7 linked regions of the Homo sapiens genome follow. The protein of the gene in region 1 purifies or fractionates together with the protein of each later gene. This does not show direct contact. Each region holds a gene or a part of one and is shown in the gene's direction. Other genes may lie near its edges.

Region 1 (3,500 bases):
CTATATATCCAACATATTATAAAGTTCATCATGATATGGCAGAACAAAAGGCATCACAAGAAGAGAGAGAATAATTTTGCCTGTGGTCATTAGTTTTGAAGTAGTAGAAAATGTCTAAATATTAGGTGGAGCAAACTAGTAAAACTGGCTCAAGTTTTCATTACACAACTTCGTTTCTCTAACCTCTGCAGCTTTGGAGCAATTCCCATCGACCAGAGTTGGTCCGACCAGCCTTGGAAAGGTCACTGAAAAATCTTCAATTGGACTATGTTGACCTCTATCTTATTCATTTTCCAGTGTCTGTAAAGGTAGGCAGCTTGTGTGATCAAATTAATTTCACTTTTGTTCTCAGCATAAATATTGTTTTCATGGAGATTTGAACTAAGCTTTTTCTTAGGAGGACATAGGGATTTTAACATGGAAGAAGAGCCCTAAACATAACTCCTAATTCCTTTCTATGGAACAGAAAGCAATTTTGAATCCATACTTCCGTGATTGCATGTCTACAAGAAAAGAGAGTGCAGAATCCTCAAAGCCTCTGCCTCAAAAACTTGAGGAAATGACAATCATCTCCTTGAAGGCACAAGGTCTTATTTATGATTCCTGATTTCACCTCTTGGGATGTTCACAGACACAGAGTTTCATGAAGCTGTGGTGTCCAGAAAACCTGCTGCACATAGGGTGCACAATGAGTTTCCATCTTCTTGCCTCTTTTCAAGGGGCAAGAACTCAGTCCGGGAATGTCTTAAACTACAAACCTTCATGGGAAACCTTGTTGCTTCTGCTTCCTCTCTTTTCACACTGGAGGTTTTATTTTTGCTTAGCCATGAATTCTTGTGTCATTCATAACTTTTGTCTTAAGGTACTGAAAACTAGTCAGGCTAGTTAATGCAAAAGGGTATATTAGATATGATAATGGGAAATCAAAGCCAGGGCTACATTAAGAATTTGATAAAAACTCTAAAAATATATCCTTTCTCCACCCTTATCTCTGCTTTATTACAAAAGGCTTTTTAAATATTTGTTCCAACCTTTTTCGTTGGTGGCATTTATGGCTTTGGAGCACTGTCAGGCCCATGTTCATTACCGTGAGCTCCTGTGCATCTCCTAATTTCCAAACTAGCCTGGAAAACGCCTCCATTGACCATGATTGGTTCATGGTCCTGTGCATGGAACATCATATGTTCAGGGAGATAAAGAACTCTGATAGTGGCACCTGGGTAAAAAGTACAATCCATTATATCTGGATATCAAGATCTTTTGCAGTTGAAGAGAGGTATTGCCACAGAGAAAATTATAGGAGCAGAAGAAAGTCAATGAAAGTCAATGATGACACTCCATTAGGAACCAGAAAGATGGTATTTATTTATACATATAATAGGTGTAAGAGATTAGAGGAAGCCTGTCACCTGAAGACATTCCTTATACCTTCATATGTAGTACACTTTGTACATACCACTCTCTGGAGCGCTGCATCACCTACCTCATGGAGGATTAGTGTCCTTAAATGTACCTCAGAGCATGGCTATGTGTGGAGAAATTGACTTGTGACATCACTAAACTGACTGCTTCTACTTCAGCCAGGTGAGGAAGTGATCCCAAAAGATGAAAATGGAAAAATACTATTTGACACAGTGGATCTCTGTGCCACATGGGAGGTGAGTGTTTGGAGGTGAGAGAACGGATAAGAAAGATGAGGTAGGATACATCTGTTTCCTATCTTCTTAGTACAAGTATGGAAAATGCACCATTGGATCAAAAACTTAGGAACTTTACAAAGGTAGTTTTTGTGAGCAGCGAGGAAAAAGAAATGACAGGCATACAAAAGAGAGAAGTGGAGGAGAAGAATTGGGGGTAAGGAGGACTGGGATTTCTTTCCTTGCCTGTACATTAATCTCTCCACTTTCCTAAGGAGGAAACAGAAATTCTCACTCTTGCAATCACTATCTTCTTCCCCAATTTTTCTGTTTTATTTTCTCCCTTTTAAGAACCACGGCTAGCTAGTTTGATTGTCACGTCTAGACAGTTGTTGCTTTCACAGTTCTATGTTACATTTATCTTGCTCTTCAGTCGACTACACAAATGATACCTCACAATTCCTTTTTCCCAGGCCATGGAGAAGTGTAAAGATGCAGGATTGGCCAAGTCCATCGGGGTGTCCAACTTCAACCACAGGCTGCTGGAGATGATCCTCAACAAGCCAGGGCTCAAGTACAAGCCTGTCTGCAACCAGGTGAGCGCCCTCAGCCTCCTCTCCTTTCTGTTCTTCATGCCCCTCTTTCTGTCCTATTGCCAAGTATCCATTCATTTAGTCCCACTTATCTTTGTAAAAGAGAAGATTCTAGAGAACAAAGCCTCTTCCTAGAAGGGCATGGAGTCCTCTTACTTGTACCCTGCTTAGAAAAGTCTTACGAAAAGGTGTTGTAACTTTGATGCTGAATTGTGTGTTACATTTATAGGAGGTCAATTCGATCAAGAAGTCCAAGGATTGCCAATTAGACTCAGGGAAAGGTGGACTTACCCCTAAGCTACGAAAGATGACCAGAGAGTGGACGGGTGAAGGTGATTTGGAGGGAACTGTGCATAGATATGAAGCCATGAAGAGATGGAATGAACAGTACATAAGGAGAGAGTGAGAGCAAGAGAAGAGAAATACTAGGGATTCACATGGGCTTCGGATGTCTCAGTGTCTCTTGATATCTCTGCTTTCACACTTCTTGACCAAGGGCATAGATACACTAAAAATTATCTGCAGACAGTGAAGGTCATCCATGGTAGAAAGAGAAAATGACCTGTTTATGGAGATATCTGTTCACAGTGGATGAAATCCACACTGAGGAAGGTTCAGCAGAACATGGAGCTGACCTATGACTGCCCCGCTCCTAGTCGGCTGCTTTTTGGAGTCTGTCATGCAATCAGCTGCTTAAACACATCTATTCTATGCATGGTTCTTTCATAGCCTAGAGATAATTCCATCTTTTCCTTGAGTCCTGACTGGTGATTCCAGGCCTCCTTGATCAAATTGACTGCCCCCAAATGTTACACACATTTCAGCATTAAAATCACTACACCTTTCCCAGTAACTTACATTTTTTGTTATAATTTTGTTATAATTTGGTATAATGATATGGTGCTGTGATAATTTAATAAAAGCATTGAGAAATTAATGTGGTTTTAATACTAGTAGTTCCCCAATTTTTTAATATGGCCATTTTCACACTTTCCAAAAATTTGATAAAAATAATACTGGAGACCCATGTTACCATTTATATTCAAAATTACTAACATTTTGCAATGTTATATGGAGTATATCTGCATAAATACATATAATGTTTCTAGAACCTCTTCAAGGTAAATTGTAAAGATGACAATTGACCCCTAGAGACCTCTCAAAGCATGTCACAGGAATGAAGATATTCTCCCAGTTCCAGTGTCATTACTGTATCTAAGAACATCATTTATAGTGCCCTTATGTCATTTGGTATCCGGTCCATATTTTA
Region 2 (3,500 bases), 6.9 Mb from region 1:
CACCACGCCCGGCATAAACTATTTTTCTCCTGTAGCTTTTGATGGACTCCCAGATTTTAATTTGTATTTGTATATTTTCTAACCAGGAGATCCTTGAAATAAGGACATAAATTAAAATTTCAGCCCTTTAACAAATAAGAGGCATTTGCTTACAATGAGTTGAAACGGCAGCAGTGCTGTAAGTAAAACTATTATGTAGGGTTTTCTGTATTGCAGAACAAGGTTGTTTTTCTAATACACTAGTATTGAAAATCTGTGAAACTTAACATTTTTGGCAAGTGTTAATACTTACATGGCTTAGATGGTACTAATTCATATGGGTTATTTCAATGCTTCTCAAACTTTAAAATACGTATTAACTCTCTAGACTCTTACTAAAAAGCAAGTTCTGATTAGTTTCTTTTATTATTATTTTTTAATTATTGTGGAAAGCTTCACGAATTTGTGTGTCATTCTTTTTTGTTGTTTTTTGAGATGGAGTCTTGTTCTGTTGCCCAGGCTGGAGTGCAGTGCCGGGATCTCGGCTCACTGCAACCTCTGCCTCCCGAGTTCAAGCAATTCTTGTGCCTCAGCCTCCCAAGTAGCTGTGATTACAGGCATGTGCCACCACGCCCAGCTAATTTTTTTTTTTTTTTTTTTGAGATGGGGTCTCGCTATATCGGAGTGCAGTGGCGTGATCTCTGCTCACTGCAACCTCCGCCTCCCGGGTTCAAGCAATTCTCTGCCTCAGCCTCCCGAGTAGCTGGGATTACAGGCACCTGCCACCACACCTGGCTAATTTTTGTATTTCTAGTAGAGACGGGGTTTCACCATCTTGGCCAGGCTGGTCTTGAACTCCTGACCTCATGATCCACCCTCCTCGGCCTCCCAAAGTGCTGGGATTACAGGCATGAGCCACCGCGCCCAGCCAAATTTTTGTATTTTTAGTAGAGATGAGGTCTCACCATGTTGGCCAGGCTGGTCTCCAAAACTCCTGACCTCAAGTGATCTGCCTGCGTTAGCCTCCCAAAGTGCTGAGGGTACAGGCGTGAGCCACTGCACCCCACCTGCATGTCATCCTTGCACAGGGCCATGCTAGTCTTCTCTGTATCACTACAATTTTTAGTATATGTGCTGCTGAAGTGAGCACAACAAGCTCTGGTTACTTTTAAACAAGATCTCCAGTGATGTCAAAACTGCTGGTGTGTGGCCTACACTTAGCGGCATAGGAGTATACTATCTGACTTTTAAACCCATCTTTTTAAAAATGATTTTGTTGTTGTTTTATTTTGTTTTTGAGACAGGTTCTTGCTCTGTCACCCAGGCTGGAGTACAGTGGCGTGATCACAGGTCACCGCAGCCTCGACCTCCTGGGCTCAAGCAGTCCTGCCTCAGCCTCTCAGTATCTGGGACTATAGGCACACACCACTACAAATGGCTAATTTTTTTTATTTTTAGTGGAGTCGAGGTCTCACTATGTTGCCCAGGCTGATATTGAACTCTTGTAAACCTATCTTAAGTAGAGTCTGCATTTTTTCATCAGATTTTTTTTTTATATATCTTTATGTAAGGTTAAATTAGTGATAGTTTTGTTATACAATAGAGTCCATTGTAGAATTGCATTTAATCCAAAGTGTATATTGTATTAATAAACAGTTTTTGAGCTGATAGATTTTTGAGTCACTCAGAATGATTGTTTGCTTATAAACCAGTCAAATGACACCTTACACTATAACTAGTGATATAACTATACCTTACTTAGCAAAGATTTTGAACATTTTTTTCCTGTCATTTACTGCATTTATTTAAAGTATTCTAGGTTAGATAGCTGCCTTTTCTTGACTTCAGGAGAGATGCTTGAATCTTCTCTTTCATTCCCTCAGGGAATACTTGTGTTCTTTCCATCAGTTCATTTCTGGAAGAGTTACGGATCTTATCCAGCTGAGGATATACTTTTCCATATTTGCATCTTAACGCTTTGAAAGTTTCTTGCTAAGGTAGCTTGCTCTGTAAGAAACAAACTGTTCATCTGCTTGGGCTGCCATGACAAAATATTACAGCCCTAGTAGCTTAAACGACAGATGTCTGTTGTCTCGCAGCACTGGAGGCCGCCGGCAGGAAACCTGAGGTCAGGGAGTCAGCGGGGCTGGTTCCTTCTGAGGCCTGGAGGAAGACTGCTCCAGGCCTGCCTTCTACTGCTGGGGGTGCCGGCAGTCTTTGGCTTCCATACCTTGTCATACCTCACCCTGGTCTCCGCCTTTGTCTTCACGTGGCCTTTTCCCCCTGTGTGTGTCTGTGTGCAAATTTCCCTTTTTATAGAGATGCAGTCATATGGGATTAGGGCTCCACCCTGCTCCAGTATGGCCTTATCTGAAGTAATTACGTCTACAGCAACCTTGTTTCCAAATACGGTCACATTCTGAGGTCCTGCAGTTCAGTGTTAACATGTGAATTTTGGGGATACACAACTGAACCATAACACAAACTGTGAATTCTTAGCACCTTAAGAATAAGTTGTAGAAGAGAACAGAGCCACTCCTCCAGCCATTGCTCCAATGGCTCTGGTTAAGTTGTAGCTCAGTAGAGAGCATGAATGCTCTCAAAAAAGCACTACAGTTGTCCTCGGTATCCACAGGGGGTTGCTTCCTGGATCCCCTCAGACACCAAAATGCACAGACATTCAAGTCCCTGGTAAAAAATGGTGTAGCATTTATGTATAACATATGCACATCCTCCCGTGTACTTTACATCATCTCTACATTACTTGTAATACCTAATAAAGTGTAGATGCTATGGAGATAGTTGATATACTGTATTGTTTTTAATATTTATGTTATTTTTTATTGTTTGGGTTTTTTTCCCCCGAATATTTTTGGTCCATGGATGTGGAACCCGCAGATGCCAGGGCCACCTGTAACTTGGGGGAGTGACTTGGTGGTGGTGGGTAGCGTTGCAGACGCCATCTTGCTGGACTTTGTCCTGTGGCAGTAAGCTCTCTGATGTGACCCTGTTTGTTCCTTTAGGAGACGTTGATCCAGCAGCACGTGTCATTTCATTAGGTCCTGTATCTGATGTTGTGGTTAGTGGAGTCCTCCAGCAATTGAATGAGAGCAGTGGACACATCTCAGCAGGTCGGTCTAGAGAGTTGCGAATCTAAACCTGGGACAGGCTGGGGCCAGGAGGCAGAAACACCAGCCTCTGCCAACACCGGAACAAGCCGACGCTTCCAGACAAGGCGGAAAAGGCCTTTTGTAATGGAAATCTCGCGAGGGTTAATCTTCTCTTGAGAATGGCAGTCAAGAAATGAGATGGTTCACTTGACTACTGAGCAGTTACACCAAGGAGAGCGTGAAGGAGATGATTGAGCCAGAGAAGAAACGGGTTGTGATGGTAATGGTGTGGGGGAAATGAACTTGAGCTTTAAACTTGATTTGAGTTTCAGTGTCTCTGAATTGAACATCCCACGTTGGAAGAAGATACATTTGGGGGCTCCAGGACTACAGTAGAAAAGTATAGAGCAA
Region 3 (4,072 bases), on another chromosome or scaffold:
TGGTTTTCAGACAGTGTGTCTCCCCACAATCTGCTTCTCTCTACAAGCTTGTTTGAAGCCAAGTTAAAGCAATGGATAGAAGACGGCAGCGCGGGTGTCAGACCTGCCAATTTCCAACTGCACACCAAATCCCCGAACATATGCTTGAGGCCCCTGCCTTTCGGTTTCATAAATAAAACCCTGTCCTGACTACCTCCAGGATTGGATGGAAACTCGGATGAGTAAATATGGTAGAACGACTTTGCAAACTAGCACCCTATTCACACGTAAGGGGTTGCTCTTGTCACCGAGACTGTTAGAGGCAACGTGAGTTAACAGAAATAGCTTGGATTTTGAAGCTAATGGAATCTAGATCCATTCCTAACCAGCAGTGTGACCTTATTGTGTAATCTTTCTGAACCTGTCTCCATCCATCTCTACAAAGAATGTGGCACAATGTAGGAACTCAGTGAATTTTCGTGATTAAAAGACGAGATAATACAGGTGCACAATCTGCAAAACATAAAATACTCCATAAATGGAAGCAGTAAATCTTCCCCGAGCTCGAGACTCCAAAGGCCCTGAGCCCAGTACCAGTAACAGCACCCAGGTAAGTAGGCTGGCTGAGAGAAGAGGGCTATAAAGAAAAGTTCTTTCCTGAGCTTTGAATCCCCACTGTCAGGCTTCAATGGAGCGCAAAAATTCCTAAATTTGGTGAGAAATGGCAACATTACCAGGGAATGAACAGACCAGGCCACTCACATCCACGTGAGGGCTCCAGGAGCCACTTCCGGGCCCAGTCAACCACGACCAGGAGAGGCAGCGCTGGAGCCTCAATCACGTCGACGGAAAACAAGTGCGCTCCCTACTGCAGTCACCAGGAGGCGCTAGTCCCGCCTGTCTCCCGGCACGGGTCCTCGTTTGCGCACGCGTCATTTCTTTCCTCCAGCGTCCCCGCCCCTTCTCCTCCGGCCGCCACCAGTTTCGCTTGGCCAGTTGCGTTCGTGCGGCGACGTCCACGCATTTTCTGACGTAGCGAGCGACGGCGGGGAGCCGAGCGGAAGTCCAGCACTATTGCCGCTAGAGGAGGGGAGGGGTGAGAAGCATAAGTGGCACCGGAAGTGGAATTAATCCGCCTACCTCTCCTGCGCCTGCGAAACAGAAAAGACAAGGCGCCTGTCGGGCGGGGTGTGGCTTCGGGTGGCGGAGAACGCTGCGATTGGCCCTCGGCTGTGGCGACAGCGACGATTGGTCCCTGCGTGCAGAGCGCGGTGAGAGTGGGTGGTGGCCGTTGGAATTCAAAAGTGGCGGGTGTGGCGCGGGGCTGGTAGCGGCCGGAGCCGTGCGAGTTCTCTACCCTGCTTCGCGAGCGGGCGAGAGAACGCGAGTCCCAGGATCCCCGGCACCCAGTTCTCTTCCACTGCATTCCCCCGGCGCGTGTGGGACCGAGGTGGACATGGATCCGCAGGTGAGTAGGGGCGGCGCAGGTGTCCTGCCCTGGGGATGGGGACGAAGGCTGACCGCTCCGATGCTGTCGCGCCCCCGGCTCCCGGTCGGCCTTTGTCATGTCTACCGGGAGAGCGAAGGTCCGTGCGCCCCCGCACAAGTGGAAAGGGGCGGAGGCAGGAGTGGAGACGGCTTAGAGCACCCGGGGAGGTCGGAAGGCACGTCTGTCTGCCCTCCCCTAGCTTCAAGTTTCTGGAGCCCCTCCCTTAACTTTCATGTCTCCGAGATTTCTCATTTCGAATTCTCAGGCTCGTCTGACACATTTCCACTTCTTTATTCCTACTCAGGGTGTGATTGCAGTGTGTAAGAAGGGAGAGTTCTGATATGACTTCTTCCTTTTGGGGACATGGTGTCTGAGGCCACATCCTTGCTGAGGTCCTTTTGTGTTAATCGCCTCTCCTTATCACTGCTGCTTCGGAGTGTAGGAAAGGGAGAAGGAGAGTAGGGTAATCTGGGCCAAAAGACTTCTCATTCTCTCTCTCCTTTCCCAAATTGTGCAGATTCCTGCCCAATGAAACTGATTGATTTAGTTCTTTCTCTTAAATGGTGCCCTGCTGCACCCCACAACCATATGCAGCTTCCTGTCTCCAGTGAAGAGAGATGAATGTGTGTGACAGCTGGAGTGTACTTATCTCTGGTGCCAGGAAAGGTCTGCCTGAATCCTTTGTTTACTAGTATTTCACGTTCAGGTTTCCCTGAAGTTAGGATTCAGCCTTAAGAGAGATTCTTTCTCTCGTGACAACCAGAGAGCAGAGTAGTATTATGTGACAGTAAGAAGTAGTAAAAGCCTTCTCAGATCTATTAATCAAGTATTTATTGAGCACCTACTACATGCTAGGCGTGGTTGTAGGTACTTAGGATGCAGCAGTGAACAAGGGACAAATCGTTGCCATCGTGGAGCTGCCATTCTATGGGGATACAGACAATAAATGTAATAAATGAATTATATAACTGCCAGAAGGCCGTAAGTGCTGTGGAGAAAAGGAGAAATTCAAGGTTGAGGACATAGGGGAGGCCAACTGGCGGGTTAGAGTATTAAATAGGGTGGTCTCAGTAACCCCCATGGAAAAGATGAGTTGAATAAAGACTTGAAGGAAGTGAGGGAGACAGACAAGCAGATAGTGAGGGAAGAACATTTCAGGCAGAGGGAATCTGCTAGAGCAGAGTCCCTAAAGAGTTGTAAGGAGGGAAGTGTGGCTGGAATGAAGTGAGCAAGGGGAAAAGTTGTGGGAAAGGAAGTCAGGTAATGGGTAGTGGGGTTGCTGATCACAGTTTGTCCTTGTGGGGGTCGTTGTGAGGACTTTTACTCTGAGTGAGATGGGGAATCATTGGATGATTTTAAGCAGAGAGATAAGATTTGTTGGGTCCACCAGATTTTCGTAACCATAGCACCATTGCCTTTTTTTTTTTTTTTTTTTTTTTGAGACAGGTTCTCTTTCTCTGTTCCCAGGCTGGAGTGCAGTGGCATGATCATGGCTCACTGGAGCCTTAACTTCCTGGGCTCAAGTGATCCTCCCACCTCAGCCTCCTGAGTAGCTGGGACTACAGGCAGCTGCCACCATGCCTGGCTGATTTTTTGTATTTTTAATAGAGACAGGGTTTTGCCATGTTGCCCAGGCTGGTCTGGAACTAACTCCTGGGCTCAAGCAATTCGCCTGCCTCGGCCTCCGAGAGTGCTGGGATTACAGGCATGAGCCACCGTGCCCTGCAACATTTTTTTTTTTTTTTTTGAGAAGTAGTCACGCTCTGTCGCCAGCCTGGAGTGCAGTGGCGCGGTCTCGGCTCACTGCAACCTCCGCCTCCCGGGTTCAGGCGATTCTCCTGCCTCAGCCTCCCGAGTAGCTGGGACTACAGGCGCCTGCCACCACGCCCGGCTAATTTTTTGTATTTTTAGTATAGACAGGGTTTCACCGCGTTAGCCCGGATGGTCTCAATTTCCTGACCTCATGATCCTCCCACCTCGGCCTCCCAAAGTGCTCGGATTACAGGCATGAGCCACTGCACCTGGCCAACATTTTTTATTGTCGTGACTAGGTGGGGGGTTGCTACTGGCATCTAGTGGGTAGAGGGCAGGGATGCTGCTAGGCATCTGACAGTGTACAGGACTGCATTGGACATTGTCAAATGTCACCTTGGGGATAAAATCACCCCCAGTTGAGAACCACTGGTTTATGATAATCTAGGTGCCAGATGATGGTGTCTTAGGTCAGGGTGATAGCAGTGGAAGAAACAGTAAAAAGTGATTGGATTCTGGATATATTTTGAAGGTACAATCAGCCATGCTTTGCTGACAGATTAGATGTGGTATGTAGGAGAAAGAGAGGACTCTGGGTTTTTGGCTTGAGCAACTGAAAGATGGAGTTATATCAATTGAGATGGAGAAAGCTGCAAAAGGAGCAAGTTCAAAGCAGGGTTGGACATCAAGAGGTCAGTTATTAGACTTCCAAATGGAGATTTTTTTTGATACGGAGTCTCTCACTCTGTTGCCCAGGCTGGAGTGCAGTGGTGTGATCTCAGCTCACTGCAACTTCTACCTCCCAGCTTCAAGCAATCCTCCCACCTCAATCTCCCGAGTAGCTGGGATTAC
Region 4 (3,500 bases), on another chromosome or scaffold:
CACAACAGGTGCCACCACACCTGGCTAATTTTTTAAAAAGCATTTTTTTGTTGTTGTTGAGATGGAGTCTCCCTATGTAGCCCAGGCTGGTTTTGAACTCCTAGGATCAAGCGATTCTCCCACCTCGGCCTCCCAAAGTGCTGGGATTACAAGTGTGAACTGCCTCGCCTGGCCCAGAGTTCTTTATATAAATAAATGTTTCTTTGTGTCACTATTTCTTCATCCACTTAAATATTTGCTCAGCTCCTGTAGGTCACACACTATCTTGTGATCCTGGGAATACCACCAGTTCCTGCCTATCAGGAACTCACAGTCTACTGCAAAGTTTCTCAGCCTCTACACTTTTTTTTTTTTTTTTGAGAGGGAGTCTTGCTCTGTTGCCCAGGCTGGAGTGCAGTGGCATGATCATGTTTACCTGGAACCTATGAATAGGACCTAATTTGGAAATAGAGACTTTGCAGAAATAGTTAGGTTGAAATGAGGTCTTTCTGCATTAGAGTGGCCCCTAATCCAATGACTGCTATCTTTTTTTTTTTTTTTTTTGAGATGGAGTCTTGCTCTGTTGCCCAGGCTGGGGTGCAGTGGTGCAATCTCAGCTCACTGCAACTTCTGCCTCCCGGGTTCAAGCGATTCTCCTGCCTCAGCATCCTGAGTAGCTGGGATTACAGGCACCCGCCACCACACTCAGCTAATTTTTGTATTTTTAGTGGAGACAGGGTTTCACCATGTTGGCCAGGCTGGTCTTGAACTTGTGACCTCAGGTGATCCACCCGCCTCGGCCTCCCAAAGTGCTGGGATTACAGGCTGAGCCACCTCTCCTGGCCCACCTCTATACTACTGACGTGGAAGCGAGGCTGTCCTGTGCCGGATGTTTAGCAGCATTCTTGGCCTCCACCCACCAGACGCTGGCAACATACCTTCCTCCACGTTGTGACAGCCAGAAATGTCTCCAGGCATTATGAAGTGTCCCCTGGGGAACAAGATTGCCCCTGGTTGAGAATCACCGGTTAGAGGCTAAGACAGCCGTGTATATCTATAATTTCAATCAGATTGCTTGTGCCTAACAGGATACACACACACACACACACACACACACACACACACACACACAGAGGAGGCATTCAGGATGTATTTGTTGGATGTTGGATGGCTGGGGGTGTAGATGGATGCATGGATGGACAGACACAACCCCTTTGTTGGTTGGCTAGATTGATGGATACATGTGTGAATGAATGGATGAATAAATGAATCCAATTTACAAATTCCACTGTGGGAAAACAGAACGCTATTCTTCCAACCAGAGTAGCCTGCCCCTTTATCTCTGTCTAGCACAGTGTTTTTCAAACTTTAGCATCAGAATCCCCTCAAGAGCTTGTTAAAACACAGATTGATGCCCCTGCCCACCAGAATTATGATTTAGTAGAATCACCGGCGGCCAGAATGCTCCCAACTCTATTTCCATGTTCTCTAGGAATCCTGGACCAGCCCCCGACCCCTGCCAACCTTGTCCTTGTCCAGAGGTCCCGTAATCTTCACTGCCAGCATCTCCCATTTAGGTGCTAACATCTATTATCTTGGATATCAGCAACTTGCCAGCACTCTGTCCCTGGGCTGCACTGAGAATTCCTTCAAAGGTGGGACCCACTGTATTCTAGTACCTTACTACTGAAAGTGTGGTCCAGCGGCCAGCAGCATTGCATCTTCTAGGAGCTAGCTAGAAATGCAGAATCTTGGGCCCCACCCAGAACTACAGAATGTGAATCTGCGTTTTAACAATATCCCCTGGGGTGATTTGTGTGCACTTTTAAGTTTGAGAAGCGTATTTTAGACAGATCTGTAAACCCCACACTCAGAGCTAAGCTAGGGATAGCTTTGCTGATAAGTTACATTGACAGCATCTGTTACCATGTAATTGGTGCCTGAGCTGAAGCATCTTTCAGGCATTACTGGCCATTTGTACCTTTGCCTGACGTTATCTCTTGAAATGTCTACACTGGCCTCGCTTTACCCGTGGGAAACCAGAAGCCCAGAGGAGCAGTGCCTTGCCCAAGGTCACACGATGACCATGAAAGCAGAGTGGAGATCACTCTCCACTCCTTAAAGGGAATGGGATCAAGAGGATTGAAATGCTGTATCCACTGAGCAGGGCGGCACATGCCTGTAGTCCCAGCTACTCGGGAGGCTGAGGCAAGAGGATTGCTTGAACCCAGGAGTTCTGGGCCGTACTGTACTATACCAGTCAGGTGTCTGCATTAGTTCGGCATCAATATGGTGACCTCCTGGGAGTGGAGGACCACCAGCTTGCCTAAGAAGGGGTGAACCAGCCCAGGTCAGAAACAGAGCAGGTCAAAACTCCTGTGCTGATCGGTAGTGGAATTATGCCTGTAAATAGCTACTGCACTCCAGCCTGGGCAACATAGTGGAACCCTGTTTCTAAAAAAAAAAAAGAGAGAGAGAGAGAGAGAAAAGAACTGAAATGCTGCTATGATACTGAAAATATGGGGTGTAGGGGGAGCATTCTGAAGCTACTTAGGTCTGTCCTCTGAAACTGGAGAAAGGGGAGATGACTTGAAAGTGATGCAAGAACAAGAACTTAAGTTGTATTCTTTTGTTCATCCAACCAGTGTTTATTGAGTACTTACTAGACTCCAGGCATGGTTGTCTGGTATCTATAGTATTGAACAAGAAAAGCCAGGCCTCCCTTTTGATGGCTTATCTGGAGTGGACAGACGTAGCCATCTGGCATTCATTCGTCAATGAGTGTGTTCATTTATTGCATGATTTCCATGTGCTGTGTACAGTAGTAGGGGTGTGTGCGTGTCTATGTGTCTGTGTGTGTGAGAGAGACAGAGAGAGAGAGAGAGATGGAGGGAGAGACAAAGACTCAGCTACTACACCAGCGCCTCTTCTAGACTAGCCATGCGGAAACAGGCCCCAAAACAAGGACCACACAGTGAGGAGAGTGCCGAAGGTGTGTGGGAGTGAATACAGGTTCAAGCTCAAAGTAAAAAGAGGTTACCACTCCCTGTTCCTGGGGATTCTAGGGAAGAAATTTCAGGAGGAAAAGGCAGAAAAGAAGAGAAAGAGACTCTGTGCAGGGAGAGCATCATGAACAGGCCCAGAGAGTTCATAGGAAGCCGTTCCAAGAAAATCGCAGGGGAAAAAGGAAGGATAGACAGCGTATGGTGGCTCGCACCTGCAATCCCAGCGCTTTGAGAGGCCGAGGTGGGTGGATCACTTGAACCCAGGAGTTCAAGACCAGCCTGGCCAACATGGCCAAACCCCGCCTCTACAAAAAATACTAAAATTAGCCGGGCATGGTGATGCATGCTTGTAGTCCCAACTACTCAGGAAGCTGAGGCAGGAAGATTACTTGAGCCCAGGAGTTTGAGACCAGCCTGGGCAACATAGCAAGACCCCTCAAGACCCCTTCTCTACAAAAAATTTTAAAAATTAGCCAGGTGTGGTAATGTGCACCTGTAGTCCCAGCTACTCAGGAG
Region 5 (3,500 bases), on another chromosome or scaffold:
CGTGTAGGTTGGCATTACCATCACCTATCCAGCACTACTGAAGGGTCTGGTTCCTTGGAATGTTGTAGGTGTTTGCAGTGAGTCCCCGGCAAAACCATCCATTTAACTTCCTTTTTTTTTTTTTTTTTGGAAATATGTGTGCCTTTATTAGCTGAGCCACTACTTGAGGGGGATGAAGCGGGAGGAGTGGGTGGCCCCGATGCCGGGCCGGCAGTGCTTCACCAGCTTATAGGTGATGGAGAACTCGCCCAGGTAGTGACTGATCATCTCCGGCTTGATCTCCACCTGGTTGAAGGTCTTGCCGTTGTAGACGCCCACCATGCTGCCCACCATCTTGGGCAGGATGATCATGTCCCGCAGGTGCGTCTTCACCACTTCCGGCTTCTCCATGGGCGGTGCCTCCTTCTTGGCCTTGCGCAGGCGCTTCAGCAGCGAGTTCTGTTTCCGCCGCAGGCCCGGGTTCACTTGCGGCCGCTGGCACGCACTGTACAGCTGCGTCAGCTGCTCGCAGGACACGTCCCGTCCCGCAGCTGGTCCAAGTCTGTGCCGCGGTAGGTGAGTTTGCGGAAGGTCCGCTTCTTCTGCTCTACCTCGGCCATCTTGTCGGATCCTCAGAAAAGTTCACTTCCATTTTTAGGCAGCTCGTAAAGCTTTAAAATTTTTTGGCAAACTAAATTTAATATACTTTTAATGATTTAAAAATGAATTAGTAAAGTTTTTTTGTTTTTGCTTTTTTTTTTTTTTGACGAAACGGAGTTTCACTCTTGTCACCCAGGTTGGAGTGCAATGGCATGATCTCCGCTCGCCACAACCTCCGCCTCCCGGGTTCAAGCGATTCTCCTGCTTCAGCCTCCGGAGTAGCTGGGATTACAGGCATGTGCCACCATGCCTGGCTACTTTTGTACTTTTAGTAGAGATGGGGTTTCTCCATTTTGGTCAGGCTGGTCTCGAACTCCCGACCTCTGGTGATCCGCCTGCCTCGGCCTCCCAAAGTGTTGGGATTACAGGCGTGAGCCACCCCACCTGGCCGAATTAGTAAAGTTACTGATAGCAAAACTGATTTTTCTTACTGTACTTTTATTGGCAGTTACTTTTTGTGTAATGCTAATAATTGTTCTGTATATTAATAAAGCAAGCAAAATACTATTAGCTCATCTGTAATTTAGTATTTTTATAAAGCTAATACTTTTATAAAATTTTAATGCTCTATAAAAGTATAAAGATACCTTGTACAGATACTTTATAAAGATCAAAGACAGCCGAAAGTCCTGCAATCCCAGCACTTTGGGAGGCCGAGGCGGGTGGATCACCTGAGGCCGGGAGTTCAAGACCAGCCTGGTCAACATGGTGAAACCCCGTCTCTACTAAAAATACAAAAAATTAGCTGGGCGTAGTGGCACTCGCCTGTAATCCCAGCTACTCGGGAGGCTGAGGCAGGAGAATCTCTTGAACCCGGGAGGTAGAGGTTGCAGTGAGCCCAGATTGCGCCGTTGCACTCCAGCCTGGGCAACAAGAGTAAAACTCGTCTCAAAAAAAAAAAAAAAAAAGAAAGACCACCAAAAGTCTTGTGTTACTAGCTCTTGAAATCTTCTATATTTGCAAATGAATGTATTAGTGTAAAGGAATTAGGACTAAGCTGTATTCGTGATATCAGGTGAGGGTTTACATTTTCATTTACACTAAAGAACAGCTTTCCCATGATTTGTTCCTCCTTTGTAGCACGCTGAGTATTGTGTGTTGAATTTGAATTCCTTAAATGGAATTAAGGGAAATTGAGGTTTCTGTATGATTTTTGAAGAAATGCTGCAGCGTATAAATCCAGGCTAACAAGATATAATGTCTTTTAAGAACTGTGAGATAACCTACAAAATGAATGATGTATATTTGTAGGGCCTATAAATGGCTGATCCTAAGACTTAACATCTTGGCAGAAGCACTCGGATTCCTGCAGAGTCAGGTTTCTGTTTTGGAAATGGACCACACTGCAGATTTTGAAAATGAGTGGTGTTATTCCTGACTCCTTCAAAATATATCCCTCTGACCTTTCAGCTCCGTTCACCTTCTCTGCTGCTATCACAAGTCAGACTTGGTTAAGGGAAATAGATTAATAGTAAAACTGTTTTAGCCATCAAGTTTCCTTTCCCATTCCCCAAACGTACTAATTAAACAGTTACTTCAAGGATTTATATAAACCTCTTAATAAAGCTGATAAAAGCTGTACAACTAAATATTTATGAAAGCTTTTGGAAAAAAATCTATTTTTGGATTCCTACTCTTTAATATTTATAAAGTGATTTGAACGCAAAAATGCCAAATAGAACTAAACTGAATGCTGTGATTGTTAATAATACTATTGAGTCTACAGCAGCCTCTGTTGATATATGGCTAAATGAGTCCTTCATTATATCACAGTGGTTATGCTGCTTTCACTGAAAATCGTTAGATGGTGGGGCAGTACTTTTATGAAACTATCAAATTTCTGGGATTCCATTTTTTATAAAATGACATTTTGACAGTGTAAACCTTTATTTTAATTTGAATCTTTCATTATCTACTTTGATTAAATAAAAATGCTGAGTTACTCTTCAGCAAGTATACAAAAAGTAATCATCTCTGCCAAATTTCTGTGATTTGTAAATTCTGAGTTTTTTTGGTGGCTCTTGCATGATTTCTTGGTTGGCAAATTATTAAATTTCTTCTCACCCCTCATTTCAAAATGAGGGTGCTTCTTTGGCTTTGGCTGGAAATTGTGTTAGCAACCTATAAAAAGAAAAACTTTAGACAAATTAGACTTAGTTTATTTGAGCAAAGAAATGAATCATAAATCAGGCAGCACCTGAACCAGTAAAGCTTCAGAGTGCTCACCCAGTGACATAGGCAGGCAGTATTTATAGACAGAGAAAGGAAGTGACATGGCCAGGCGCAGTAGCTCGCACCTATAATCCCAGCACTTTGGGAGGCCGAGGCAGGAGGATCACCTTAGGTCAGGAGTTAGAGACCAGCCTGGCCAACATGGTGAAACCATGTCTCTACTAAACATACAAAAATTAGCTGAGCGTGGTGGCGCTTGCCTGTAATCCCAGCTATTTGAGAGGCTGAAGCAGGAGAATCGCTTGAATCCTGGAGTTGGAGATTGCAGTGAGCCGAGATCACACCACTGCACTCCAGCCTGGGCTGCAGAGTGAGACCCCATCTCAGAAAAAAAAAAAAAAAAAGAAAGAAAGGATGTGACATATAGAGATAGCCTGATTGGATACAGCTCTGCTTTGCCTTATTAGGACATGTCTGAGCAGTTTGCAGCCCATAATTGGCTGAAAGCTCAGCTGCCATGCATGGTTGGCTGAGACTTGGTTTTTATTACAGGAATATACTCTCAAATTATGTTGTAGTTTGTGTGCATATTAAGTTAGGTGACAGCTCCCTAGGCATGGAGGCAGTTTTAGGCCAGGTTTAAATTAAGGGCTACAAGCCACTGTCTAGCGAGGATGTTACTTGTTTTG
Region 6 (3,368 bases), on another chromosome or scaffold:
CCTCCACACCGGCTTAACTCGACCTCCTTCCCAAGAGGGGGTGGCCAGGGCTAGGCTATGCGCCTCTGCTGCAGCGTTTGAATATTGGCCCCTGTCTCACGGGTTACTGATTAGCTTGGGCTTTCAAGCCGTAGGAGGAAGCTCTGGCAGTTCCTTTAAAGGTGCTGTGGTCCCCGTTCCTGGGTGGGGGTGGGGTTCCAGGAAATTGCCTGCGGTGCCAGGCAAACCAAGGTGTTGCCAGAGTCTGGCCGAGGGCTAGAGGAGCTGACGAGGTTAAGGGGCCTGGTGGTGCTGGGGACAAACACTGTGGCTGCAGCCCTCACCCTCTTTCGGCGCCTCTGGAGCAGCTCTTTATAGCTTTCCTGCGGCGAGGTGACTTTCTGGTGGCTATAAGGCCCGACTCAAGGAGCTGCTCTATAGGAGGCCCTGAGGGAGCCAGCCCTAGAAGGTCCTTGGCCCCTCTGAGATTTTGCTTTTGGGCAATCCAAAGGACATGTAGAGAAGTCAAGCTGGTACATGGTATTGAAACACTTCAGGGCCCTCAGGTTGTCCCCTGGACCTGCGGGTAGGAAACCGGGAGAGTGGGTTCAGCACTACTGCTCACTCCCCTAAAGATCAAAGAGGATGCCGCTCCTTTGCATAATGAAAATGAAGTCTTTGTACTTTGATTTGGAGGGGCCGATTTTAGGGCAAAGTGTCTCATCTAAACAGCCTCCCTCAACCTATGGGAGTGATCACTCAGTACCCCTGGGAACATTTATTTATGTTCCCCAAACCCAGAGAAACAGAGTCCAGGACGAGAATTGAGTTGAAATATTTTCATCCCACCCCACCCCAGCCAAAGTTGGGGGTGGTGGGAGAAGGTGCTCATCACCTCAAAGAGCTGAGGGAGAGGGCTTTATAGCTTAGAGGAAATTGGAAGCCTGGACAATGTCTCAGCACCCTCCCACACACACCACACCACACCACACACACACACACACACACACACACACGCAAATATCCCTCCTGAGGTTACCTATCAAGAATTTTACTCCCGAACTGAACACAACTTAGGAAACATTTTCCTGGGAGCTGGAATGTGTTAGCTTGCCCACAGGACTGCAGACTCACAGCATAGAAAATTACAATTATAAATCCTGCCTGTGGGGTATCTGTACAATCCCTCTGTTATGTACTCAAGAATTGGTACACACTTCTATCCATCTCTCTGAACACACACTTCCTCATTGAGGCAGGGAGAGACACCCCAGACTGGCGGATGGCTGAGCCCGCTGTGTATTTACATATTCCCCCAAGGAGACAGACAGAGGGCGGTGGACCGAACCACAGACAGATTCGTAGGGATCTGGCTCCAGAAAGGAGTCGGTCTCTGGCCTGCCCTGCCCGCCTGCTCTTTTTCCCAAACAAACGGATCAGACGAATAAACGCTCATAAATACCTCTGGGCTTAGATAAGAGCGATGAGGCGCTATTTTCTTTCATGCCCGACTCCAGGCGCCCAGGCCCGCCTGTAGTGGCTCCATCTCCAGACAAGCAACCTGCAGAGGTGAGGTTAATTTGGGGGCTGTGACTCTAAAGATAAGGCAATTATTTCCCTGCTTCTGACACAGGGAAATGCTCCCTTCCTCACCAGATCTTATTTTGTTCAGACTTCACTGAGAAAACCACACTATTTAGTGCTAGGATGGAGACATTGTGGGCAGGGAGGAGGCAGGGAAGGCTGAGGCCCAGGGCTCAGCCTCAGCAGTAGGCAGGGAGGTGCATGCAGGTACTCTCTCCCACTTTTCTCCCCCTGTTCAAATGGCCCCTAGTCCTCTCTAGAAGCAAGCCCAGCCATACCTAGATATGGAATATTTATCCTTCTTCATTATCAGGGGGTTTAAATTTGTTTTCTTAAATGCTTATCAAACACTCCCACAGAGTCAGGTTAGGAAGTAATTGGAGGCCATCTAGGGATGGCTATTTTGCCATTAAGGTACAGCCAAGAAGTTGCCCTGAGTTTAGAGAGCCTTGGAGACCACGTTGCAACCAAATAAGTTCCCACCCTTGGTGATCCAAGCTCAGTCCCCTGCCACCTTCCCTAGTGTCTTGTACCATCTTCAGTGGGCAGAACTTGGCCAGAAAAAGGAGCCCAAAGGAAGGACAAGGCAGAGGAGGGTCAGCCTGGCCTGACATCTGACTTTGTTCCATGCCCTGGCCCCTTCTTGTCCCCAGGTGTGAAGGTTGTCACCCTTCACTACTTGGCCTGTGTATGTATATTAGAATGTTGGGAATGCACTGTGGCCCTGTCTCCCAGCCTGGGCTCAATGCTTATTTTCCTTGGATGAAAGAGCCAGAGACATACATTCTCTGACACACCTAAATTTGTAAGGCGGCAAAGCTGATGATACAAACACGGGGTGTGGGAGGGAATTGTAGCGATGCTGAGATACAGACAGAAGGGAGAGGGGATGCTGGCTGATGGCTGGAAGCAGCCTGCTGAGTCCCCAAGAGAACGCAAACGACCTTCTCTCCCTATCAAACTAAAGCAAAAACCAAGTCTTGGGAAAGAATTAATTTTAAAAAGAACTGGCAGCTCCTACAGAGACTTAGAAGAGGAGTGAGGATGCATTTCTTCCCAGTGGTCTCTGACTGCCTCAACTATCAGGAGGGTTCAAAGCCCACAACTGGAAGAAGAATGATTTCTTCCTTGTGCCCAGATTTACTGGGACATCCCTGATTCCTGAAAATCCTATAGCCCAGGCTATTCTTAAGTCTTTTGGGATTGTAGAGGGTACTGGAGTGAGGGTTGCAGGCAGGATAGGGATCAGACAAATAAAGCCACCTAGGCTGAGGGATACCCCTCACTCCTTCACTCCATATCACCAAGTGAGGAGAGGGCTAGTCCCTTTCCCCAGTGCCCCTTCCCCTGCCAAGGGTGAGCAGCTGCATACTAGAACCAGGCAGAATGTTTTGGGCAGCCACCCTCGTCGCCGCCTTCCAAGAAGCTCCTAGTCTAGCCACAGAGTCAGAAGGGGAAGCTTGGGCTCAGTCCCTCCTGCCAGCTCCTCCTCTTCTGGGTCTTCTAGGCAGTGGGATCTGGCCTGCCCCCTCAGACCAGAAGGGTTGTGGAGAAGCAGGAACAATAAGCCGAGGCTTGGAGGAGACAGAGCAGATCTGATAAACAGGAAAAACGATGTTCAAAACCTGGGGAGGAGGGTGTTTCTTCTTTGCTTATCTTAGCGGAGAACTCTTCTCACCTTCTACCGACACAAAACCCTAGAAACAAACCTTCTTTAGTTCTCTCTCAAGGCGATTCGGAGACATTTACCCAACCCTCCCCGGAGAGAAGGGGTCGAAGCAACGCAGGGGTTAACTTTTCTGAAA
Region 7 (3,500 bases), on another chromosome or scaffold:
CTACTTGTATTGATTTTGGTTTTGTTTTGTTTTTTTAACCACAAGCTATTACCTTTCTCTTTCAAAGTTTGAAAGGAAACATTTGCACTGGGAATTTTTTAATATTGGGAGACTGGGTCCCAAACTAAAGAGTCAGCCCTGTGATAGAACACGTGTGAAGACTTCCCATTCGGTAACATTATAGCGGAGGCATTGACAAGGTTCTTTTCATTGTGCTCTCTATTCCTAGAAGTGTGGAAGGCTGATGACCAGATGGAGAGAGACCACAGAAACCCAGACGAGCAGGCGAGGCAATTTTTAATTCTTAAGAACCAAACCCCAATTGAGGAAAGAGGCGATCTCTTTGGAAAAGCACTTAATCTGAACACAGACTTTGTTTCTTTAAGACAAGTACCTTATAAATATGACTTATATGAAAAAACTTTGAAATATAATTCAGACTTGCTTAATAGTAATAGAAGCTATGCAGGAAAGCAGACTGATGAGTGTAATGAATTTGGAAAAGCACTTCTCTACCTGAAGCAAGAGAAAACCCACAGTGGAGTAGAATATTCTGAATACAATAAAAGTGGAAAAGCCCTCAGCCATAAAGCAGCCATTTTTAAACATCAGAAAATAAAAAACTTGGTTCAACCTTTCATTTGTACTTACTGTGACAAGGCTTTCTCCTTTAAGTCACTCCTCATTAGTCATAAGAGAATACATACTGGAGAAAAGCCATATGAATGCAATGTATGTAAGAAAACCTTCTCCCATAAGGCCAACCTCATCAAACATCAGAGAATTCACACTGGGGAGAAACCTTTCGAGTGTCCGGAATGTGGAAAAGCTTTCACCCACCAGTCAAACCTCATTGTACACCAGAGAGCACATATGGAGAAGAAGCCCTATGAGTGCAGTGAATGTGGAAAGACATTTGCCCAAAAGTTTGAACTCACCACACACCAGAGAATTCATACAGGAGAGCGACCCTATGAGTGTAACGAATGTGCAAAAACCTTCTTTAAGAAGTCAAACCTTATCATACATCAGAAGATTCACACGGGGGAGAAACGCTATGAGTGCAGTGAATGTGGAAAATCCTTTATCCAGAACTCACAGCTCATCATACACATGAGAACTCATACAGGAGAGAAACCCTATGAATGTACTGAGTGCGGCAAAACTTTCAGCCAGAGGTCAACTCTTAGATTACACTTGCGAATCCACACAGGAGAGAAACCATATGAGTGTTCCGAATGTGGGAAGGCCTTTAGCAGGAAGTCCCGACTCAGTGTCCATCAGAGAGTTCACATCGGGGAGAAACCCTGAAACTCCAGCCAGGTCTTACTGTGGAAAACTCCTGCCAGAACTCTTCAAGCGGGTGAAAAACCTCATGACAGTATTGAGGGAACATGGGAATTCATACTGAGATGCAATCTCTCAACTCAAAAATGTATTAAAAATAGGATCCCATGAGAACATTATACTGGAAGTTACATGTGATACCCAGCTAAAGAATACATATCAGAATATATCCAGTTGTAAATAGCCATACCCAGTTGTACTACAATGAGCTTTTTAAAATCTTGAATGAATTGAGTATTCTAGACAGCAGCATAAGAAATATACAAACAGTATCCTATGAATTTAGTGGTTTTATGTGGATATGCCACAAAACACAAGTGGTATGCTTTAGATCTGCACATGTGAATTTAGCATAATCACTGGGAATTTGAAATTCTTGTCCTCTGTGATAATTAGGACATAACAAGATTTTCCATACTAAACATCACATGTGTTTTTCAGTATCTCTGCAATCCAGTATGCATTCCAAATGAAATGTGTAACATTTAAAGTAGCATGGAACCTACGTCTTTCCCTACTGCTTGCTGGCATATATCAGTTGGTATGAACATTGTTCTTGAGCTGCCTCTTAGGAAACAGAAGACAGTGTTGAAGTTTTCCCTGCTTCTGGTTTGCTGAAGATTTTCTAGAAGCACTATTTACACAAATATGCAAATGTGAAATAACCGATCTATAACGTGAAGGAGGCAGACATGAGCTGTACTACTCAGTATGCACCACAGAATAAGAGTTTGCCGTGTAAAGACAATATCCCCATTCGTCATGCTCTTATTTTCCCGTGGGATATTTGCATACAAATGCATGTCTGTTACCAAAATATTGTGTAACACAGACAGAAACCACCTGTTTTTGTCTTTCCTTGTTTCCCTTAATATTTCATGAATTGTCTAGCAAAAATGGTAGGATGCTTCTGTAGTTCACAAATGTTACATTTCAGAGACTTTAGAGGAAAAATTATTTTAAATAACTGTCAACTGTTTCATTGCTTTTTAAATTTTTCACGTGCATAACCCCCTTTAGAAGTAAATTTTTACACTATTTTGTTGTTTAAAGGAGGCATTTCTACTTCCTTGAGTTTTGCTGTTGCCAACCTAAAACATTTCCCTTTGGAACATGAGTTATAAGTTATTACTTTTCCTTTACATGTTTACACTTTTATAAAAATCAGATTTTTCAGTGGTCTCTCCAGATATTAACAAGAATTGTTGTGTAACTCAAAGATTTGCTTTTATAGACTTGATTTCAAATTCTTAAGTTCAGCCTTTCCCTATCAATCACAAATCATGTATTGGAAATTATAAATGGCAACCAAAAACTGGCTTTTAAAAAATATTTTTGGATATCATTGATGTGCTGTCACACTATATATTGAGTGACTTTCTGAACAAATTTATCCAGAACATCCATAGCCCAATAAGCTTTTGTCTAAGTTGTCATCTTACTTACTCACAAAGGAGGGGAAAACGTTATTTTCATAGCTGCTTTTAGAAATGTAAATTGTAACAGCCTCCTTGGACAACATTGTGAGTCTGTTTTAACATTAATATACTCTTACAACCTAGGAATCTCCTGGGAATCTATCCCTAAGGAATAAAAAGCGCCAGCACTTAAGATTATATGTTTACTAATGTATATTGTATTTTTTGGTAAGGACCAAAAAAACAAACAAAAAAAAGACCATCAGTAAGGGAATGGATGAATAAATTGTGGTAAAAACATACCATGGCTGAATGGTATTTCCTTGAAAAGAATGTGTGGGAACAAACTCCAAACTTCTCTAGGTCAAATGAGGAAAGCAAGAGGGGAGAGAGAGAGTGTATGTGTGTGTGTAGCAGTTTTTATAAAATAAAGATAAACCCTTATATATGTGTGTCTTTGTATATGATTTTATGGGCCTGGTGAATAGAATTCCTTCCATTTTTAACCTGTGGACCTCACCAGCTTTATCAGTGAGGGCTTTAGCAGTAAACTGAATTAGCGCCTTATGAAAGGATGACTTGGAGAATGAGAGAAGGATTAAGGGAACAAACAACGGATGGTAAGGAATCCAGAGACCAGCAGTGCCAAGAAGCTGTTGTCTCCCTAGGGACCAAAGGAAGAAATGGTGTTTCAGAGCCCAGTGAGAGCCAAAATGTTGGAAGGTCTCTTTCCTG

What was found.
Region 2: the proteins of AKR1C2 (region 1) and UPF2 purify together in Homo sapiens (co-immunoprecipitation; one large-scale study listed by IntAct). This does not show direct contact.
Region 3: the proteins of AKR1C2 (region 1) and KIFC1 purify together in Homo sapiens (co-immunoprecipitation; one large-scale study listed by IntAct). This does not show direct contact.
Region 4: the proteins of AKR1C2 (region 1) and ABAT fractionate together in Homo sapiens (co-fractionation; one large-scale study listed by BioGRID). This does not show direct contact.
Region 5: the proteins of AKR1C2 (region 1) and TIGAR fractionate together in Homo sapiens (co-fractionation; one large-scale study listed by BioGRID). This does not show direct contact.
Region 6: the proteins of AKR1C2 (region 1) and HOXB6 purify together in Homo sapiens (co-immunoprecipitation; one large-scale study listed by IntAct). This does not show direct contact.
Region 7: the proteins of AKR1C2 (region 1) and ZFP1 purify together in Homo sapiens (affinity purification with mass spectrometry; 3 studies listed by BioGRID and IntAct, with this or other methods). This does not show direct contact.

Annotation. Positions count from the first base shown.
Region 1 is NC_000010.11:4,997,358-5,000,857, reverse strand, and holds part of AKR1C2 (aldo-keto reductase family 1 member C2), read left to right. Parts: intron 1-191; coding exon 192-308; intron 309-397; coding exon of another isoform or gene 398-448; exon of another isoform or gene 449-947; intron 948-1,580; coding exon 1,581-1,658; intron 1,659-2,110; coding exon 2,111-2,233; intron 2,234-3,080; exon of another isoform or gene 3,081-3,500. UniProt on the Homo sapiens protein: Cytosolic aldo-keto reductase that catalyzes the NADH and NADPH-dependent reduction of ketosteroids to hydroxysteroids.
Region 2 is NC_000010.11:11,920,810-11,924,309, reverse strand, and holds part of UPF2 (regulator of nonsense transcripts 2), read left to right. Parts: intron 1-3,002; coding exon 3,003-3,012; 3' UTR 3,013-3,500. UniProt on the Homo sapiens protein: Involved in nonsense-mediated decay (NMD) of mRNAs containing premature stop codons by associating with the nuclear exon junction complex (EJC).
Region 3 is NC_000006.12:33,390,551-33,394,622, forward strand, and holds the start of KIFC1 (kinesin-like protein KIFC1), read left to right. Parts: upstream 1-1,272; 5' UTR 1,273-1,435; coding exon 1,436-1,447; intron 1,448-4,072. UniProt on the Homo sapiens protein: Minus end-directed microtubule-dependent motor required for bipolar spindle formation. May contribute to movement of early endocytic vesicles. Regulates cilium formation and structure.
Region 4 is NC_000016.10:8,681,117-8,684,616, forward strand, and holds part of ABAT (4-aminobutyrate aminotransferase, mitochondrial isoform 1 precursor), read left to right. Parts: intron 1-2,142; exon of another isoform or gene 2,143-2,435; intron 2,436-3,500. UniProt on the Homo sapiens protein: Catalyzes the conversion of gamma-aminobutyrate and L-beta-aminoisobutyrate to succinate semialdehyde and methylmalonate semialdehyde, respectively. Can also convert delta-aminovalerate and beta-alanine.
Region 5 is NC_000012.12:4,324,213-4,327,712, forward strand, and holds part of TIGAR (fructose-2,6-bisphosphatase TIGAR), read left to right. Parts: intron 1-127; exon of another isoform or gene 128-627; intron 628-3,500.
Region 6 is NC_000017.11:48,598,619-48,601,986, reverse strand, and holds part of HOXB6 (homeobox protein Hox-B6), read left to right. Parts: intron 1-323; exon of another isoform or gene 324-559; intron 560-1,441; exon of another isoform or gene 1,442-1,540; intron 1,541-3,368. UniProt on the Homo sapiens protein: Sequence-specific transcription factor which is part of a developmental regulatory system that provides cells with specific positional identities on the anterior-posterior axis.
Region 7 is NC_000016.10:75,169,024-75,172,523, forward strand, and holds the end of ZFP1 (zinc finger protein 1 homolog), read left to right. Parts: intron 1-229; coding exon 230-1,311; 3' UTR 1,312-3,211; downstream 3,212-3,500. UniProt on the Homo sapiens protein: May be involved in transcriptional regulation.